2 linked regions of the Homo sapiens genome follow. Each later gene encodes a partner of the first gene's protein in a complex. Each region holds a gene or a part of one and is shown on either strand. Other genes may lie near its edges. A codon is read from its position in the direction of its gene.

The links.
Region 2: the proteins of SLC39A7 (region 1) and METTL9 are in contact, whole or in part, in a crystal structure (PDB 8GZE), measured with the Homo sapiens proteins. Residues at the interface, in NP_001070984.1 of Homo sapiens: Gly65, His66, Thr67, His68, Glu69; in NP_057109.3 of Homo sapiens: Arg114, Thr115, Asn118, Arg123 (codon at 2,302), Gly124 (codon at 2,299), Met126 (codon at 2,293), Met179 (codon at 2,134), Asn210, Asp213, Arg214, Val241, His245, Tyr247, Glu249, Trp255, Tyr295, Leu296, Cys297, Glu298, Asp300, Tyr306, Val307, Leu308.

Annotation. Positions count from the first base shown.
Region 1 is NC_000006.12:33,198,859-33,202,607, reverse strand, and holds the start of SLC39A7 (zinc transporter SLC39A7 isoform 1 precursor), read right to left. Parts: upstream 1,742-3,749; 5' UTR 1,363-1,741; coding exon 952-1,362; intron 864-951; coding exon 695-863; intron 537-694; coding exon 483-536; intron 346-482; coding exon 181-345; intron 49-180; coding exon 1-48. Other genes in the region: RXRB (retinoic acid receptor RXR-beta), read left to right, coding at 2,132-2,366, 3,192-3,439. UniProt on the Homo sapiens protein: Transports Zn(2+) from the endoplasmic reticulum (ER)/Golgi apparatus to the cytosol, playing an essential role in the regulation of cytosolic zinc levels.
Region 2 is NC_000016.10:21,616,428-21,620,176, reverse strand, and holds part of METTL9 (protein-L-histidine N-pros-methyltransferase isoform 1 precursor), read right to left. Parts: intron 2,313-3,749; coding exon 2,103-2,312; intron 1-2,102. UniProt on the Homo sapiens protein: Protein-histidine N-methyltransferase that specifically catalyzes 1-methylhistidine (pros-methylhistidine) methylation of target proteins.

The DNA.
Region 1 (3,749 bases):
TTTCCTTTTCTTCTTCCTCTGAGCTCTGCTTCTCCTTGGTAGAACGCTCTGAGGGAAGAAAAGAGTTGGTCAGAGTGGAGAACAGATCTTCCAACATGTCCTCTCCCTCCTGAGGGCCATAAGATGAGGAGATTCTGAGGCAGGCAAGTCAGCTTTCAGGAAAGTTGTTCCTGGGCTCACCTTGTCTTCCATGTCCATGACTTCCACGTGTATGACTGTGAGCGTGTCCATGTCCATGACTGTGACCATGTCCTCCTTTCACATGTCTCACAAATTTCTCCACGACAAGAAAGGCAACAATTCCACTGAGAACCCACAGTCCCACAGACAGAATGGGGCCCTGGCCTGGGAATGGAGGCATTGAGACATTAAGGGAGATGTGCATTCCAGACTCCTCCTCCTCAAGTGCGGGAGGTGAGGAATAGGGAGAGACGGACCTTCCCCAGCACCCCAACTCCCATCCCCATCTGTCTCTTCCTCACCACTGTGGGAGTGTCCATGTCCGGGTTGCTCCAGAGTGTGGTGAGAATGAGGTTCTGGAAGAAGGGGGGAAAACCAGATGAGGGAATATCTGACACAATGAGTGTGTATTTGGGGGAATATCGAAAGGTCAGGGATCATAAAGGAGAAAGAACCCTTTTCCTCCAAAGAACGAAATAGGTTAGATTTGAGGTAGAAGTCAGAGGTTACTTACCAAGAGCATGAGGAATGAGGTGCAGGAAAGCATCTCCCAGGAGCCCACCGGAAGCAAAACTGAGCAAGATCTGAAGTAGAGAGCGATGCCGGGGAGAGTTCGACTCCACGGGGATAAGGAAGAGGACAAAAAATGGAGCTGCTGAGATCAGCACTGTGGCCCCCAGTGCCTGGTGAGGGAGAGTCAAGGTCAAGTACTGTGGAGTTTCCCAACAATCCAGAACCAGCCCTTCTCTCTCCCATCCCCTGGAGACTCACATAAGCCCAGAGAGTGACAGCATCCAGGTCCTGCTTGATGCCTGGAGCCCCAGACTCCCCATAGCCTCCATGGCTATGCTCATGGTCATGTCCATGTCCTCTGTGGTAGAGGCTCTCATGGGAGTAGCCATGGCTATGGCCATGGTGTAAATCCTCATGTGAATGTCCATGGTCGTGATCGTGGGTATGTCCATGCCAGATGCTCTCGTGAGTGTGGCCATGGCCATGGGCATGGCTGTGGCCATGGTGGAAATCTTCATGTGAGTGCCTGTGGCTGTGGCCATGGAAGTCCTCTTGCAGATCGTCGTGCAGGTCGTCATGACCCCCGAGTCCAGCCACCAGAAGCCCCAAGGTCGCCCAGGTCAGCAGTCCCACGGCCACCCAGTGGGGGGCCCCCAGGCCTCTGGCCATCACGCTGACCAGAGGGACAGAGGCAGTGACTCCACTTGACTCAACTCTATACCTACACAGGGTCCGCTTTACTCCAATCGCGCCCTCCGTCCACCTCTATGGGCCGCTCTCCCATTCCCTTAAGTTCCCACCTACATTGTTCCCAAGACTAGTTCTCTTTATCCCGAACCACCTCCCGGATGTAGGGCCCTGGGACACTAATCTTTCACCAGCCACTTTACAGACTCTCTGGGCCCTCGTCTCTACGACTCATTAGGTGAGGAAAAGGCCTGGAAAGGATGGTAGAGAAAAAACAGAGAATTCTCACCGGCTCCGGGATCCTCTCCTTTCCCGGTTTGCTTGGACGTGGCAGTCCCGCCTTTAGATCCCGCGAGAACAGGAAGTTCCGTTCCACCTTCGCCCTAATGCCTTTACCAATATGGCGGCACTCCGGTAGCGACGAATCCATCCTGCACTGACACGCATGCGCGAGTGTGGAGGTGATTTGAGGGGAGGGTGGGCGAGGCGGGCTAACAGGCCGGAGGAGACCGCCTCCTCGGTTTCCAACTAGACGAGGGGGCGGGAACTCGCGCCGAGACTTCCCGTCTGTACAAAGATGGCTGCCACATTGGCGCTGTCATTTTGGTACTGAGCAGAGCGACGGGCTTAATTCGACCCAATCCAGGCCAGAGTCTTTCTCTCAGGGGCTTCCTCGTGCTCAGCTAATCCTCCGATCAATCCTTGGGAATCCCTGGGACCTCTTCGGTATCCCTACTCTCAGCCAGGGATCATGTCTTGGGCCGCTCGCCCGCCCTTCCTCCCTCAGCGGCATGCCGCAGGGCAGTGTGGGCCGGTGGGGGTGCGAAAAGAAATGCATTGTGGGGTCGCGTCCCGGTGGCGGCGGCGACGGCCCTGGCTGGATCCCGCAGCGGCGGCGGCGGCGGCGGTGGCAGGCGGAGAACAACAAACCCCGGAGCCGGAGCCAGGGGAGGCTGGACGGGACGGGATGGGCGACAGCGGGCGGGGTGAGTGCCCCAGCAGAAGGGCAGGCGAGCCAGTGACCGCTTTATCTGCGACCCCTCCCCCACACCCTCCCCCGGTGCTCTTTTCCTTGCGCTCCCGCCCCCTTGTTTGTAAACACGCGTCCCCTCCCTCCCGAGGGCCTTAGCACCCTCCCCCCCGGGGCGGGGCGGGGAAGGGGAGCTTCCGCCCTCCTAGCTGTGACCGCTTGAGGCCTTGGGCACCGGAGGTCGCGGGCCTGGGAAGGGCACGATTCCTCTTAAACCTCAGGACTTTGGGCGTTTACAGGCAGATCCTGCGTCTTAGGAGGGGTCTCTCCTGCCTGTCTCTTTCCCTTGCACGCTCTGGCTACCTGGCTTTACGCTGGGAATAGAGGGGCTCGATGGTCTACCCCACGTGCTGCCCCACCCACGAGACAGGTGTGGCTTTGGGATGACCTGGTATTCATTCAAATGGATTGGTTGGAAAATTTTCCTCACCTGAACTATCCTCCTCTCCTTGTCAACTCCCTCCTCTCACCACAATGAGGAGTTACGCTGTTTTTGGGTTTTTTTAGCCAGTCAAATATAGCAGTGGGAGGTTGTATACCAATTTTAGTGACACAAATGTTAATAAGTTCTGATAACCCACTACCATCGGACCAGCCGGAGTTACACTGTTGTTTGACAGCAGGGTGTCTCTGAACTTGGGGATGGGTGGAGTGGGCTGGGTCCGGCACGGTGGGGTATTAGAGAATTAAAGTCTCTAGTTGGATGTTTGAAGACTCATTTTCTTTTTTTGTCTCTTCTGTCTCTTGTGTGTCTGTGTGCCTGTACATACCCCTCCCTCAGACTCCCGAAGCCCAGACAGCTCCTCCCCAAATCCCCTTCCCCAGGGAGTCCCTCCCCCTTCTCCTCCTGGGCCACCCCTACCCCCTTCAACAGCTCCATCCCTTGGAGGCTCTGGGGCCCCACCCCCACCCCCGATGCCACCACCCCCACTGGGCTCTCCCTTTCCAGTCATCAGTTCTTCCATGGGGTCCCCTGGTCTGCCCCCTCCAGCTCCCCCAGGATTCTCCGGGCCTGTCAGCAGCCCCCAGGTGAGAGGTTGTGACCAACTTACTGCCTGGCCACTTTCATTTTCTTGTTTTCCTTGTAACCCCAGATCCTTGTGTGAACTTCCCCATGGCCCATTGACCTTCCAATCCTCTAACCTTGTCAGGCCTGTGGTCTTTATGAGACCCCTTGCCTTTCCTGAGGTGACTGATCTTTCAGTGCATGCTTCCTCCCCTAAAAGAACTCTAATATTCTTTGTTTTTGTGTGTGTGTGTGTGTTTTTTTTTTTTTTTTTTTTTGAGATGGAGTCTTGCTCTGTTGCCCAGGCTGGAGTGCAGTGGCACAATCTCAGCT
Region 2 (3,749 bases), on another chromosome or scaffold:
AAGGACTTAAACAGTTCAAGCTAGGAAGGTCGATCTCCCTAAGCTGTAACTCAACTTCTAAGGCGTAGCTGTGCCTGATTACACCAGAGACTATACCTATTCCTTTCCTTCCATATAAAAATCCCACAGCGTATCTGTTCACAGAAATCTTCCCTTCTCCAGGCTAAAAATCTCCATGTTTTGCAAATGCTCAAACCAGTCCTGCTCCAAAAGCTACACTGATGCTCTATCTCTAGGATTAATCTGTAAAAGTAGAAACATGTGGATAGGAAAGTGAGTGATTACATAATTTCTTCTCCTTTCTTTCTAAGGCTAACCAGACTTCCAAAAATATCACAGAGAAAGGCTGACTCCAGCTCTACCTCCCTGATTCTGCACTGAGCCAATATATAGAAATCTCCCAATCAATAAATCATACTGAAATAAGAATACCCTTCTTCCAGCCGGGTGCAGTGGCTCACGCCTGTAATCCCAACACTTTGGGAGGCCAAGGCAGGCAGATCACGAGGTCAGCAGTTTGAGACCAGCCTGGCCAACATAGTGAAACCCTGTCTCTACTAAAAATACAAAAAAAAAAAAAAAAAAAAAATTAGCCGGGCATAGTGGCATGTGCCTGTAGTCCCAGCTACTCAGGAGGCTGAGGCAGTAGAATTGCCTGAATCCAGGAGGTGGAGGTTTCAGTGAGCTGAGATCACGCCACCGCACTCCAGCTTGGGCAAGTGAAACTTCATCTCCAGAAAAAAAAAAAAGGCCCTTCTTCCTAGTCTTTCAAACTCCAGATGACCTTAAAACCAAGATTAACACTGATGACTATAAACTAAAAGCAAAACAAAACAGAAAATAGCAAGTATTGTCAAGGAGTGGAGAAACTGAAACCCTTGTACTACATTGCTGGTGGGAATGTAAAATGGTGCAGCAGCAATGGAAAAGTATTGCAATTCCTCAAAAAATTAAACCCAGACTTAGCCATGTGATCCAGCAACTCCACTTCTGGGTCTATACCCAAAAGAAGTAAAAGTAGGGGCTCAAGTCGGTATCTGTACACCCATGTTCATAGCAGCATTATTCACAACAGCCAAATGGTAGAAACAACCCAAATATCTACTGACAGATAAATGGGTAAACAAAATGTGGTACATGCATACAGCGAATTATCATTCATCCTTAAAGAAAATTTTGGGCCAGGCGCAGTGGCTCACACCTGTAATCCCAGCACTTTGGATTACTTGAGGTCAGGAGTTCGAGACCAGCCTGGCCAAATAGTGAAACCCTATCCCTACTAAAACTACAAAAAAATTAGCCAGGCATGGTGGCATATGCCTGTAATCCCAGCTACTTGGGAGGCTGAGGCAGGAGAATTGCTTGAACCTGAGAGGTAGAGGTTGTAGTGAGCCGAGATCGTGCCACTGCACTCCAGCCTGGGTGACAGAGCAAGACTCCATCTCAAAAAAAAAAAGAAAAGAAAAGAAAAGAAAATTTTGGCCCATGGTACAACATGAGTAAACCTTGAAGACATTATGCTACATGCGATAAGCCAGTCACAAGGAGCTAATGTATATAATTCCTCTTATACGAAATACCCAGAATAGTCAAATTCATAGACAAAGTAGAATGGTGGTTGTCAGGGGTTACGAGGAGGGAAAAATGGGGAGTTATTGTTTATTGGGTACAGAGTTTCCGTTTCGGAAGACAAAAATTTCTGGAGATGAATAGTGGTGATGATTATGCAACAATGTAAATGTACTTAATACCACTGAACTGTACACTTAAAAATAGTTACAACAGTAAATTCTATGCTATGTGTATTTTACCACTACTTAAAAAAATTTTTTTTGAGAATGCCACATTCTGATTAGGGAAGAAGTCCCTTCTTCTGATCTGCCTTTTCCAAGTTGTCTCTCGCTAGTGCTTTTCTTACCTATAGTGCCAACCCCTCCGCTCCAGAAAAATACTGCTACCAGAAGATTATTTCTCTACATTTCCAGTTAATTATGTATGAGATGATTTTTTAAATTTCTAATCATGGAAGATCATTTTTTATTCATATCCTTTAAATAATATACTTTCAAGAAGAAATGCATCTAAAACCAAGAAAATTATACCTGTATTTCTTTTTCTGAAGCTGCCATATCATAGTTTCAGAAAGCTCAGTGGCATAGATTTCTTCAAAATGAGGGCTCATGATTTTTGTGACTTCTCCATCTCCAGCACCTAAATCAAGAAGTCTGTGGGTTTTCCAGTCTGGATTAATTTTAAGCAGTCTCTGAAACTGATCTGGTGAAAACACAAACATTGAGCCTCTTCCTAGCAACCTGAAAGAAAAAAAGGACAAAAATGGAAGTGTCTATGCAAATTAAGCACCCCTCACATACACACACAAAGTGAATATAGTGACTCAGCACCAACAACCATAATCACTTATTACATGGTTAAGATTTTTTTTTTTTTTAGACAAGGTCTCACTCTGTCACTCAGGCTGGAGTGCAGTGGCATGATCTCGGCTCACTGCAACCTTCGCCTCCTGGGTTCAAGCGATTCTCCTGTCCCAGCCTCCTGAGTAGCTGGGATTACAGGCATGCACCACCACACCCGGCTTATTTTTTGTATTTTTAGTGGAGACAGGGTTTCACCATGTCGGCCAGGTTGGTCTCGAACTCCTGACCTCAGGTGATCTACCCGCCTCGGCCTCCCAAAGTGCTGGGATTACAGGCATGGGCCACTGCGCCTGGCCTAATTTTTTTTTTCTTTTTTTTTTTGAGACAGAGTCTCGCTCTGCCGTCGCCCAGACTGGAGTGCAGTGGCACGATCTCTGCTCACTGCAAGCTCCGCCTCCCAGGTTCATGCCATTCTCCTGCCTCAGCCTCCTGAGTAGCTGGGACTACAGGCGCCCGCCACCACACCTGACTAATTTTTTGGATTTTTAGTAGAGAAGGGGTTTCACCATGTTAGCCAGGATGGTCTCGATCTCCTGCCCTCGTGATCCACCCGCCTCTGCCTCCAAAGTGCTGGGATTACAGGCATGAGCCACCGTGCCCAGCAAAGATATTATCTTTTATGTCATTTCTATGATTAGAAGACAAAGTTAATAAAATAAGAAAATGCCTCCAGATACCATTTGTCTTTGGAGTTGCAAATAATGCCCCAAAAAAGCATGGGAGGAGGGAAATAAAAGGTGGAAAGTGGAAAGGATGACAGGGGAAGGAAGAAGAAATAAGTAAGAGATGAATGTGAAGAACTTAAGTCAAAATAGGAAGGAAAAGTGGAAGGAGTAACAGAAAACATGTTTATCAGTTGAAAAAGATGACAAGCTAACACAGCCAGACCACAGTAGCAGAGAAACCAAATAGGAAAAAAAAGTGATTTCAAATATGGAACTAAACCATGGATCAGGAAAAAAGAGCTTTAGTATAACAGATTTTTAAGAGACACTAGAGAAAAGAGGGAAAAGAGTGGTCCTTGTGATGTCGGTTAATATGCATTAAAGTAGATTCGTACTTATGTCAGTTTATATGGTTACAACTGTCTGGGTCCTATTATTTCTAAAGGTCCTAGAAAACACTCAAAACCATAGTGATGCCTTTGAAAAAAGAGACTGAGGGGAGTTTAACTGGAGATTGAAGAGAACCCTCAGAAAAGCAACTATAGGTCCAGCCAAGTCTCATGGAAGCATCACTCTGGGAAATAAAGCGCAATCCCTATTTAGGACTTGTTTTCTAGCTCTGAAATTCTAGTTTATCTAGGACAGGGAT